Linked DNA regions of Homo sapiens: region 1 is linked to region 2. The links come from fine-mapping of genetic effects on plasma protein levels. A gene starts in region 2. The other region holds a variant in brackets. All regions are shown on one strand. Distances are from middle to middle.

Region 1 (4,851 bases), 60 kb after region 2:
TTTCTATTACAATTCTGTGAACTCTAAGTGCTATCATGATAGACCCTTGTTCTTTATTGTGCCAGAATCCTAGGAAGACTTTGTCACGGCCATTTGGAATCATTGACCAGCACAGTTGAAGAAAGCTGACTTCTTGTCATTTGCACGGGACACACTTAGTGCATAATCCAGGGTCAATATTTGTTAACAAGATGAATATTCACTTTTTTCTCCTCCAGGGAAAGAGAAGCAGAGAGAAAAAATGAGTATTCTCGCTCCAGATCAAATGGGACTGGATCAGAATCAGGGAAGGTGAGTTATTTTTTGGGTTTTGGCAAGAATCGTCTTTCTGTGAGTCAGCAGTTGGCGATCAAAACTATAGAAGAAGGTGTCAACATGATCAAGCTAGAGCTTGCCCTTAGAAGGTCAGGAGTTACCAAGTTATCAGTGACTCTCACTGATAACTTGTTCAGTGAAGAAACCTAATGCCAAGTGGACATCTTTAAGTCTGACACTTTACAAGGCATTTTTATAAATTACAGTTTATTTAATTATTTCAACAGCCTGGTCAAATTTGGCCTTTTAACCTTATTTCGTAGATAGGGAAAATGAGGTTTTGCAAGTATACTGGGATTTATTTTTGTTTTTGCATTATTTTGCTGCTAGTGTAAGTTACTATAAGCAGATGCGTAAAATAACACACATTTATTATCTTATATTTCTGGATTCCATAAGTTTTAAATGGTCTGATTGTGATAAAACCAAGATGTTGGTAATGCCGCATTCCTTTGTGGAGGCTCTAGGTGAGGATCTGTTTCTTTGCTTTCTCTAACTTCTAGAAGCTACCTGTATTCCTTGGCTTGTGGCCACCCTTAAGCCAGTGATGGCCAGTCAAGTCCTTCTTATGCTTTATCATTCTCACACTGACTGTCCTGCCGCT[G/A]CCTCTCTCTTTAATGAGTAAGAACCTTTGTGATTACATGGGCCCCACTTGGATAATCCAGGGTAACTTCCCCATTTTAAATTCAACTGATTAGCAATCTTAATTCCATATTCAACCATAATTCCTCCTTGCCACGTAAAGCAACATATTTGGAGGTTCCAGGAATTAGAACATAGACGTCTCTCTCTGTGGGACATTATTTTGCCTATCACAGCAAGGTTACATGGCTGCCTGACTCTTGGAAAGAAATCCTCTGATTCTCAAATCCAATCAAATATTATGTAAAAACAGCACTTCCAATATAATCTTCCCATCTTTTCAGGATACATGTGATGAGTTTAGAAGCCAAATGAAAAATGGAAAACTCATCTGCACTCGAGAAAGTGACCCTGTCCGGGGTCCAGATGGCAAGACACATGGCAATAAGTGTACTATGTGTAAGGAAAAACTGTGAGTATGTTTCAAAATGAGCTTTTGACTGTGAGTCTTAAAGTACAATAATCATTTCTTACCAGTTTGGGAAAATGACAATTGTTTTAGAAGCAGATCTGGTAATTAATGAGGCGTTTGTTCACTTTGATTGAAATGTTTCATTGTTTTCCCCCCAGGGAAAGGGAAGCAGCTGAAAAAAAAAAGAAAGAGGATGAAGACAGGAGCAATACAGGAGAAAGGAGCAATACAGGAGAAAGGAGCAATGACAAAGAGGTAATAGATGTTAGACACGCTAATACCTGAATTCAGTTAGTTCATTGTATGGTATATTTATTCAACAAATATTTGTGAAATGCTGACTCTGTCCCAATCATTGGTGATATAACGGTAAACAATGAAGTCATGGCCAGATCTTGAAAATAAATAGCATGCTCTTCAGTTCCCCAGGAGTGACTCTGATGCAATTGTAGAACCAGTGACAACTGTCAAATTATTGTAGTTAGCCAGTGAATTTCATTTTTGAATTTTTTCTTTCCTTTGAGACAGGGTCTTGCTGTTGCTCAGGATGGTCTCGAACTCCTGAGCTCAAGCAATTTGCCGGAGCTCAAGTCTCAGCCTCCCAAAGTGCTGGGATTACATGAGCCATCGCACTCTGCTGTTTCTGAATTTTTTAAACAAATAAATATCAAGCAATCAGATGCCAAAAATTACAAAGAAAATCAGTATCAAAAATTTGGAGTTTGAGGCCAGGCACGGTGGCTCAGGCCTATAATCCCAGCACTTTGAGAAGCTGAGGCGGGCAGATCACGAGGTCAGGAAATCGAGACCATCCTGGCTAGCACGGTGAAACCCCGTCTCTACTAAAAGTACAAAAAAATTAGCCGGGCACGATGGCGGGCGCCTATAGTCCCAGCTACTTAGGAGGCTGAGGCAGGAGAATGGCGTGAACCTGGGAGGCGAGCTTGCAGTGAGCTGAGATAGCGCCACTGCACACCAGCCTGGGCGACAGAGCAAGACTCTGTCTCAAAAAAAAAAAAAAAAAAAAAAAAGGAAAAGAAAAAGAAGAAAAGTTGGAGTTTGAGATAATAAATTCTTGATCTGGCATTTCATTGCCACCTAGTGTTCAGTTTTGGTCCTTATAAATAGTATTCAACACTACAACACCAACACGTAGAATATTACACAGCACAATCTTTTAATGCACCGACGGACTCCAATTAGAAAAGATAAATAGCGAAATTTCCCTGGGAAGATTTTTCCTATTAGTAGGGCAACTTTTCATTAAGCCTGTAGTGGCTAAAGAAAATGAAACCTTATTAGTAATTATCATTATTTAAAAATATTTTGGGAATATCTGTTGTGTGTTACGGTAGATGAAATGGCTTTGAGAAAATAACCTTATTGCACAACTTCACATGATCTCTAAAGGACATCTATTTAAAATCTTGGTAAATTTTTAATTTTATGATCCTTATTTAAAAAATTTTGAACAGAAAAATGCTATATATATTTATATATAGAAAATACTGAGTAAAAAAAAAATAAAGAAAATATGGAGGCAGGGTGTGGTAACTCACTCTTTTAATCCCAGTGTTTTGGGAGACCAGAGCAAGAGAATTGCTTGAGCCCAGGAGTTCAAAACCAGCCTGGGCAACATAGTGAGACCCTGTCTCTACAAAATAATAATAATTAAAAAAAAAATAGCCAGGCATGATGGTGCACACCTGTAACTCTAGCTACTTGGGAGGTTAAGGTGAGAGGATCACTTGAGCCCATGAATTCAAGGCAGCAGTGAGCTATGATAGCATTATTGCACTCCAGCCTGGGCAACAGAGTAAGAACTTGTCTTAAAAAAAAAATAAAAATATTGAGATTGTGTGTGAGTGTGTGTGTGTGTGTGTGTGTGTCAAATAGAGAACTACCGTTTTATCTACACATGCAACGTTAAATAAGGTTTACCAATAATTATATTTAAACCTCCCCAAAATCTATTCAGTGGTGATATTGTTCCAATTTTTTAGAATTCAGGAAAACTTAAGAGAAGTGAACTACACATAATTAATGAATAGAAGAGCCAAAGACTGAATTGGAGGGTTGCAATACAGTCAGAGGAGTGCTATTATAAAAATATGTGGTATTGTGAGCACCTGGAAAAGAAAATACTTCCAGTAATTTGTGAAAATGGTGGTTGTGAGACATTTAATATGTTGATAGGTATTTAATTCCAGAGAATTTTTTAAAATGCTGCAATTAAAAGTAAGGCCTGGAATTGTTTGTTTACGGACATCACAATTTAAAGAAAGAAGGGTAAGTACAATCTAGGTTACTGTGTTATTTTTTAAGGTAATGTTTCCATATCACCACTTTGGCTCTTTGGGCTTACAGGAAGTTCCAGAGACTTCTGTAGCTCTCTGAAGATTTTAGTACATTCTAGATCCTATCTGTAGACTCGGTTCTATTGGCTTCTTTTTATGATCATTATGTTTCAATGAACACAAAAGGCAGCTCCATATACTTATCCACACATAGGAGTTTTATTCTCTGACTTGTAAAAGCAAATAAGTAAAAAGGTATAACCTGGTGGTTAGCAGGTTTCTGATCACAAATTCAACACTGACTTTATTTAATAGCTCTGAGATTTATTTTTCTCATCTGTAGAATGGGGATGATGCGTATTTATCTTATAAGATTTTTACAACCACTAAAGGAAATCTATTAAACCACACGATAAAGCACCTCGCACAATAATTTTTTTTTTTTTTTTTTTGGTAAATTGTGGTTGAGAAATGAAGCTGAAAGTTTACGTGTTTTTATGTTTTGCCAGAAGAGTGTCGTTTAGTTCATTCCAGGGCTTTTGAAGTAGACTTATGTGTGGAATACTGAGTGCACTCATAGGGAGACAGGTTTGGGGCTCTGCCTCATAGAAAATGGTATTAAAATGAGATGGGACAGGGCACTGGGGGCTCATGCCTGTAATCTCAGTGCTTTGGGAGGCCAATGCGAGAGGATCACTTGAGGCCAAGAGTTTAAGATCAGCCCAGGCAACACAGAGAGACTCCCGTCTCTACAAAAAATTTTAAAATATTAGCCAGGCATGGTGGCACATGCCTGTAGTTCTAGCTACTTAGCAGACTGAGGTGGGAGTGTTGCTTGAGCCCAGGAGTTGGAGGCTGCAATGAGCTATGATTGCACCACTGCACTCCAGGCTGGACAACAGAACAAGATTATATATATATAACAAGATTATATTATATACATAACAAGATTATATATATATATAGATAGATATAATATATTATATATATAGATATATATTATCTATCTATCTATATATATAATCTTGTTATATATATGTAATCTTGTTCTGTTGTCCAGCCTGGAGTGCAGTGGTGCAATATATGTGTATATATATATATATATATATATATATATAATCTTGCTTGCAATATATATATATATAGTTTTTAAAGGAATGGGCTGCTTTAGTGAAATTCCATTAG
Region 2 (8,381 bases):
TGGACTTTTAAGTTAATGCTGAAATGAGTTGAGACTTTGAGGCACTGTTGGGAAGGCATGATCAGGTTTGAAATGTGAAGATATGAGATTTGGGAGGAGCCAGGGGTAGAATGATGTAGTTTGGCTCTGTGTTCCCACACAAATCTCATCTTGTAGCTCCCATAATTCTCATGTGTTGTGGGAGAGACCTAGTGGGAGATGACTGAATCATGGAGGTGGGTCTTTTCTGTGCTGTTCTCATGATAATGAATGAGTCTCTTGAGATCTGATTGTTTTAAAAATGGGAGTTTCTCTGCACAATCTCTCTTTGACTGCTACAAAGATGTGACTTGCTCCTCCTTGCCTTCCACCATGATTGTGAGGCCTCCCCAGCCACGTGGAACTATGAATCCAATACACCTCTTTCTTTTGTAAATTTCCCAGTGTCGGGTATGTCTTTATCAGCAGCATGAAAATGAACTAATACAGCACACCTCAGCATTAAAAAAGCATCCTGCCTCTGGTTTTAGCAGAATTGAGCTTGGTTTCTACTGGAGTTTCTTTTCTCTATTGGAATAGCCCAGATAAAGTGAGTCTTGCCACTTTTAATAAATATTCAGCTCTGTTTCTCTTTAACACTATTCTACAGGATCATAAGTTTAATGTACTGGTTACTTAAAGAGAAAGGAGCCTACATAAGACTGTATTTTCAACCGTATAACTGTGTCTATACATTTTTACACAGTTTGCATGTGACTGGGTCAATACATACGGTGAGTGTATTGTTTGCTATGGCTGCCGCCACAAAATACCACAGACTGGGTGACTTAAACAACATAAATTTATTATATTTTCACATTTCTGGAGGCTAGAATTTCAAGATCAAAGTGACAGCAAGTTTGGTTTCCTCTGAAGCTTCCTTCTTGGTTTGTAATGGGCAAGTTCCCACTGTGTCCTCATGTGGTTTTTCCTCTGTGTGTGCATCACTAGTGTCTCTTTTGTGTGTCCAAATTTCCTCTTCTAGTAAGGACATCAATCAGTTTGGTCTAAGGCCTAACCTTATAACCTCATTTTAACTTAACCACCACTTTTACTTATCTCCAAATATAGGCACACCCTGAAGTAGTGGGGTTTAAGGCTTCAACATATAAATTTTGGGCAGACAGAGTTTAGCTCTTAACATTGAGTACCTGAGACACATTAGTTACAGTTGTAGGCAATGTGGTTACTACGGTGTGTAGTGTTTAAGAAGCTGGGCTCTGGAGTTTGAATGCCTTTATTACATTGACTGTGATCATTTGCAAGATCACTGCTTACAAGCTGTATGACCTTGGAAAAGTTATAGAATCTCACCAAACCTCAGTTGCTTTACCTGTAAGAATAAAATGATACTTAATCTTTATATTTATTGTTGTACCTAAGTGCATGAAATGTGTTAGCAAATTTTATTTCTTTACAATTTTTTTTTTTTTTGAGTTGGAGTCTTTCTCTGTCACCCAGGCTGGAGTGCAGTGGCGTGATCTTGGCTCACTGCAAGCTCCGCCTCCTGGGTTCATGCCATTCTCCTGCCTCAGCCTCCTGAGTAGCTGGGACTACAGGTGCCCGCCACCACGCCTGGCTAATTTTATTATTGTTAGTAGAGACGGGTTTTTCTTTTAGTAGAGACGGGGTTTCACCATGTTAGGCAGGATGGTCTCGATCTCCTGACCTCGTGATCTGCCTGCCTCGGCCTCCCAAAGTGCTGGGATTACAGGAGTGAGCCACGGTGCCCGGCCTACAAATTATTTTGTAAAGATAATCTTTTTCTAACTTTGCTATAAATCTAACAGTTTCATTCTTCCCTACTGTAAACACACACACACACACACACACATATTACACATATAAAATTTGCAATGCTTTTTTGCTAAAATTAGGTAGACTTTTTTTTTTTTTTTTGAGAAAGAGTCTTGCTCTGTCGCCCAGGCGGGAGTGCAGTGAAGTGATCTCAGCTGACTGCAAGCTCCGCCTCCCAGGTTCACGCCATTCTCCTGCCTCAGCCTCCCGTGTAGCTGGGGCTAAAGACACCCGCCACCGTGCCTGGCTAATTTTTTTGTATTTTTAGTAGAGACGGGGTTTCACCGTGTTAGCCAGGGTGGTCTCAATCTCCTGACCTCGTGATCCGCCCATCTCGGCCTCCCAAAGTGCTGGGATTACAGGCGTGAGCCACCACATCCGGCCGGTAGACTCTTAGGTACTTCAGGATTAATTTGTTATGATTTATTGAAAGACTGTAGCTCCTCAAACCTCTGTTTTCTATTGTCAGGATAAATCCTAGGAGACTTTAAAATGCACTAAATTTTTGAGTGATAAACAGTGTGGGGCCATGGGTCAGGGGTTCAAGTAATATCAGCTATAGGGAGAAGCTGATTGTTGTTTCTAAAATAAAATATAACCCATATGAAAATATTAATACAATTAAAAATTAGACATTGAAATTCCTGTCTTCTTAATCCTAATCTAATAAAAGCAGTAATTATGTCTGTAAATAGCAGGGTCTATATACTCAGTAAACAAACAATGCCCATCCCATTCTATTATTAGATAAAATGAGAGGCTTATCTCTAGTTTCTTAGTCTTTCCAGACAAACAGAAAGGAATTCCTACAGAGAGAGTGAAGTTAGTTGGTAATGCAACATTACCAGATAAGAAGATGAGTAAAGGCTGTTTTCCAGTTAGTGTCTTTTACAAAGGAGAATATAGGCCGGGCGCGGTGGCTCATGCCTGTAATCCCAGCAGTTTGGAAGGCCAAGGCGGGTGGATCACGAGTTCAGGAGATACGAGACCATCCTGGCTAACACGGTGAAACCCTGTCTCTCCTAAAAATACAAAAAAAAAAAAAAAAAAAAAAAAATTAGCCAGGCACGGTGGTGGGCGCCTGTAGTCCCAGCTATTCCGGGAGGCTGAGGCAGGAGAATGGCATGAACGCTGGAGGCGGAGCTTGCAGTAAGCCGAAATTGCACCACTACACTCCAGCCTGGGGGACAGAGTGAGATTCCGCCTCAAAACAAACAAACAAACAGGAGAATATAGACATGTTAGATTGATGGGGGAAAATATTAGAATTATAGAAAAGAAAATAAAAAAATAAAAAAGAAATTATTTCATCTTTTAAGATATATTAGAATATATAAATTTTACTCATGGTCACAACATACCTCTTTTTGCCCAAGTGATTGTGTATGTGTGTCTGTGTGTGTGTGCATGCATAGGGCTGTATCTAGTTTAAAGCACTGTAACGTCTGGATTCTCTTTTTTTTTTTGAGATGGAGTCTCGCTGTCTCCCAGGCTGGAGTGAAGTGGCGCGATCTCGGCTCACTGCAAGCTCCGCCTCCCGGGTTCACGCCATTCTCCTGCCTCAGCCTCCGGAGTAGCTGGGACTACAGGCGCCCTCTGCCACGCCCGGCTAATTTTTATGTTTTCGGATTTTTAGTGGAGACGGGGTTTCACCATGTTAGCCAGGATGGTCTCGATCTGGATTCTCTTTGAACGGTATAAAAGTCTGTGAGATGGCCGTGGGGAAACTCAGAGAAATTAAAGGTATAAAATGTAAGAAAGTGTCAAGGCTGAGATGACCATCCCAGCTAGTTCCTACTGCAGGTTTCTTTTATGACACCAATTTTGGCTGGTAAAGAAAAGATAATAACACCTAATTGGCTGCCTCACAACACTGCATAAACAAATCAAAAGAGCTAATGAATGGCAGGTTGTTTTGAAAGCTGTGGAAGGTGATCTAATCATAAAAGACTATAGTTATTTATTAACTATTATCGTCATCAAGGCTCCCTCTGTGTAGAAAAACAGAAGACTTTAGGAATGATATGGTAACTTTATATTTTGGAAATAACCTTTGTTTGTAGTAACATTACTGATCTACAACAATCTTTATAATTTTCTCATTTCCTCCCCCTGTATCAGTATCCTTCAGATTCTGCCAACCTCATAAATGCGTAAGGTTGTAAAATTCATAGTTTTTATTATCTAAGCCCACTCATTTCTAATGAGAGGAAAAAAGTTTCTACATGTTTGATGAATAATTGAAAGAGTTAAAAACAAGGATGATATTTTGAGTTAGAAGAATACCTTGATAACCTAACTCTGACCCAAACCTGAGTTCTCCAAACCTTCAATCCCATTCATTTAAATGTAATATTCATGGTGATTTTCAGGAATGAGGAGTAATTAACAGAGCATGTGATGAATCACCTCTGGCTTTACAACATTCCTAAAATGAAATGGAGAAGAAGCCCTAATGAAATGAGCCAGCTGATGAGTACTTCCAATTTTGGGGGTGCTCACTGAATCTTCTTTTTACTACTTTCTCCATTTGGAAAAGATATCAGTTTCAAACTTTTTATTCATCATTTCAGAAAAGGCTGGCATCTCTGAGGAGCTCTTTTCCAGTAAGAAGGAAACCAATGTCTTCAATGTTTCCTCATAGTAGAGATTCCTAAGACAGGCAATCATCTTTTGGTTCTTCTGTTCCACCCTAGCACCACTTCCACTCCTGGGAATATTCTCCATTTGGGCTAGGCTAGGGGTCACTAGAGCATAATACACAGTCATTGATTCCATTTTAAGGCATCAAACTCTTTTACCGTCAATAACAGAATATATGGTTGGGACACATTTCGTATGGTCTGACAGGGCAGATGAAAGATAAAAAATTAGTATTGATATGTGAATATTTAGAAGAGGCTTTTAGAGAAAGAGACAAGAAATCAATGCTGATTGAAACAGAGCAATGGTTTTCGTTAAGTTTTAACAGGTGATGTTTCGATTTGTTTAGGCATTATGGTTTAAAATACAATTAAAAGGGAAAAAGAGAACATATATCGTTATAGTTTAATTTCACCTCAAATTGTGTTGGGGTAGTTTTTCTATGCTGAGTAAATATAAATCTATTGGTGAAATCCACAGTCAACAGATGTTTACTTTTCTTGGTATCTTAGAAATTATCTAGTACAACCACGTTATTATAATTATGTAAAAATGCAAGACCAGCTATCATTAACTATCAAGCTTATCACATAAACTTGATAATTGTTCTAAGCACCTCTCTCTCTCACACACACACAAACACACACGCATTATATATATGATTTATCTCTAAACCTCTTAGCACTAGTACAATGTACGTGTTATTATTTTTATTTTACATATTAGGAAACTGAGGCTTAGAGAAAATAAGTGACTTGTCCAAGGCAACATGGCTAACAATTCAAGATTTGGACCCATTTCTAGCTTGCTTCAAAGCTGGGTTCATTTCTATCCCTACATAGTTGAAAAGACTACATAGAATAGAAACAGATTTCTGAAACCCTGTCTCATTCTCTTTCCATTAAGCTATGATGGACTTTGATTTTCTAACCTGTAACAATAATGGAATTTGAACTTGCTTTCCGTGGTCACTAATTTTACTATTCCATTGGAAAGGAGCCAAGCTACAACAATAGTGCAGACCTTGAAACCAATGATTTTATATATATATATATATGTGTGTGTATATATATGTATGTGTGTGTGTGTGTGTGTGTGTGTGTGTGTGTGTATATCTTTTTTTTTTTTGATGGAGTTTTGCTCTGTCGCTGAGGCTGGAGTGCAGTGGCGCCATCTCAACTCACACACCCTCCGCCTCCCGGGTTCAAGCAATTCCCCTGCCTCAGCCTCCAGAGTAGCTGGGACTACAGGTGCGTACCACCAAGCCCATCTAATTTTTGTATTTTAATAGAGATGGGGTTTCACCATCTTGGCCAGGATGGTCTCGATCTCCTGACCTCATGATCCGCCAGCCTTGGCCTCCCAAAGTGCTGGGATTACAGGCGTGATACACTGTGCCTGGCCCAGTGATTATATTTTTATAGGAAATAAATTATTTCATGAGAGAAAAAAGAAAGGACGTATTATCTCACTGTGATAAATCTCATAATATTGGCATACTCCCTAAGTTGGGCAACTTTGATCAGTTTTCTGGAACCATCATAAAAAGGCCTTTAATTGGATAAAGTCTCGAACTTTTCTTCTGTGGATGTGAATATCTTGAGAAGTACTGGAATGAAACAATTTGGCTCTGGTTTCAGTCATCTTCACATGTTTCTTCAGGTGCTTTCTTAAGCTATTAGGGCAAAATAAGCTGGTAGAAAAAAGGTGTTACTTGTAGGATGAAAGAAGCAACTAAAGAGAAGAAACTTTCTCTAGAAAAATGTTACATTTACACATTTATAATTGTTAACAACTTTTTTCTTCTTTTCTTTTTGGGAGACTAAATAATGGGATGATACAGGAAGAAATATGATTTAGAGAAAACTGATTGAGCCAAATTTTTCAAACGGTAATATGGGTAATCATAGGCTATGGAAAGTTAAACTGAGTCTCCAATGTTTATGATTATGATGTTTGGCTAGGATATAAAATAAGGCTTCAGAATATAAAATATCCTGCAGATTGAGAAGTTTTAAAAGTAGTTACATACAAGTTTTATTTTTCCAACGTTCCTGCCTTTTCTAATGTCTAAGGATGAAGCAGTGTACAGAGAGGAAAGAATGTTATATGTGTGGTCTGCTTGCAAGTGCTGGATGCCTCCTCTGCCTGCTCCAACTAAACTGTCTGCTTATGAGAAAGTCATTGCTCCTCTGAGTTCCTGCCTCCCTATATATTCAACATTAGAATTTTGCCAGGTTATCTTTTAGGGTCGTTCAACTCTAACATATATATGAGTCTGTGACACTGAACTCAGACACTTCAGAACAGGAACCCTGGATTTCTCTGGATGTGGAAATCTTTAAATCTATACCTGACTGGTAGGACAACCAATCTGTCTTCCTTTCCTCTCCTCTCCCACTTATGAAGGGAGTCCAGTCAGAAACATGTTTGTCTACGAGGTAGTATATCTGGTATTTCTGAGGAATTCGGTTATTATATAGGATTATAGAATATTCAACTTTGAGTAGGGTCTGTGGACTCCATCAATTGCGTTCTGGGGGAGGTACCATGAAAGAACATTCCTACTTTAGAAATAGATATTCTCTGTTCAAACCTGACACCCTGACAGGATCCTAAAGGATGGAAGCTAAAGTGGTGTGGTATATAAGTCCCATGACCTTGAACAACTGGTTTTATGTGGGTGTCACCAGTGCTTTATAAAAGTAAACTGCATCGCCCCGAGTTCAGTCATACTGCACCAGCTGAGCAATGCATGGAGTGGACCTGTAGGCGACTTGCATCGTCTTCAACATGAAGATAGCCACAGTGTCAGTGCTTCTGCCCTTGGCTCTTTGCCTCATACAAGGTGAGCAATTTGTGTGTAATCTAAGCCTCTTGCCACACATCTCAAAGCCCTGGGGAAGGGACTTTTCTCCCCCTACTCCTGCCAAAAAATGTTTACGTATGCATGTATAATCCTGAAATGTCTTGCCAGACACAGAGTTCTGAAGATTTATATATGTGGCTTTATAATTATGTTGTTATCTTTAGAAATGGCAAGTAGTTTGAGATAATCTGAATTTTCTAACCATGAGAAATTCTTCCATTAATTCTTTATTAATTCAGAAAACTGAATAGATTCTTCTTCATCTTCCTCTTGCTAAATGTATCAATTCATAATGCATATTCTTATATATGTAATAGACATTTAAAACTTAATTGTAAATAATATATGTATTTTAATGTTATAGGTATAAATGAAATATTTTTTAAAATTCAATCATCTGTTCTTATTTTAAAGCAGTGGTATCTTCTAGCTTATTTTAGTCTTGTGTTTTCAAATGCTAAATGGGTTGAAAGCATTTCTCCCAAAGAGTGAGGGACTTTTGTGGGAGCTGGAAGGTAGATTTTTATATTTGCTATTTAACCCTAAGAGAACACAAATTGCCTAGACTTACGTTGCTCTGAAACATTAAAATTTTTAAAAAGAGAAACTCATAGATAGTCTGAAATCATATACAAATAATGCCCATTTTCCTAAAATAGGTGTGTAGGTACAAAAGAGCCTATGTTAATGAGAGAGTATAATAGCCTGTGACCTTAATCTTACCTTCTGTCAGATCTCTAACTTTTGCAGCTGTAATAAGGAGGTAGAGCTGCCAGAATTCAGAAAATTAAATTTTATGTATATATCCTATAAATGTAATGCTATATTATAGTTTCAACTATAATATAGTTTCAAAATTATAATTGGTATAGTATTTTGTGTGTATGTTATATTGTAATTTTAAAAGGGAGGCTGGCATTTATTACTCCGAAAGGACCTTTTGAAGATAAGCTATTTTGATGGGGTTAGAATTCACATGAGTATTATTTTCCAAAGTAATTGTAACTTTCTGAGTGATTAGACCTTTGTGAGTATATATACTAATCTCCTGGTC

What was found. PIP is the posterior inclusion probability: the model's chance that the variant is causal. Sun 2018 read protein levels with aptamers (SomaScan).
Region 1: its variant is fine-mapped to the plasma level of the SPINK5 protein (Sun 2018, PIP 0.95).

Annotation. Positions count from the first base shown.
Region 1 is chr5:148,118,768-148,123,618 of GRCh38, forward strand. SPINK5 (serine peptidase inhibitor Kazal type 5) reads left to right here. Exons shown (of 33, transcript NM_006846.4): 24 at 219-291; 25 at 1,242-1,369; 26 at 1,528-1,624. Among named protein-coding and RNA genes, the nearest start is that of SPINK14, 47 kb to the right of the region's middle. The variant G/A (reference allele first, on the strand shown) is at 920.
Region 2 is chr5:148,056,794-148,065,174 of GRCh38, forward strand. It overlaps SPINK5 (serine peptidase inhibitor Kazal type 5), which reads left to right and starts at 7,187. Exons shown (of 33, transcript NM_006846.4): 1 at 7,187-7,306. The coding sequence starts at 7,252.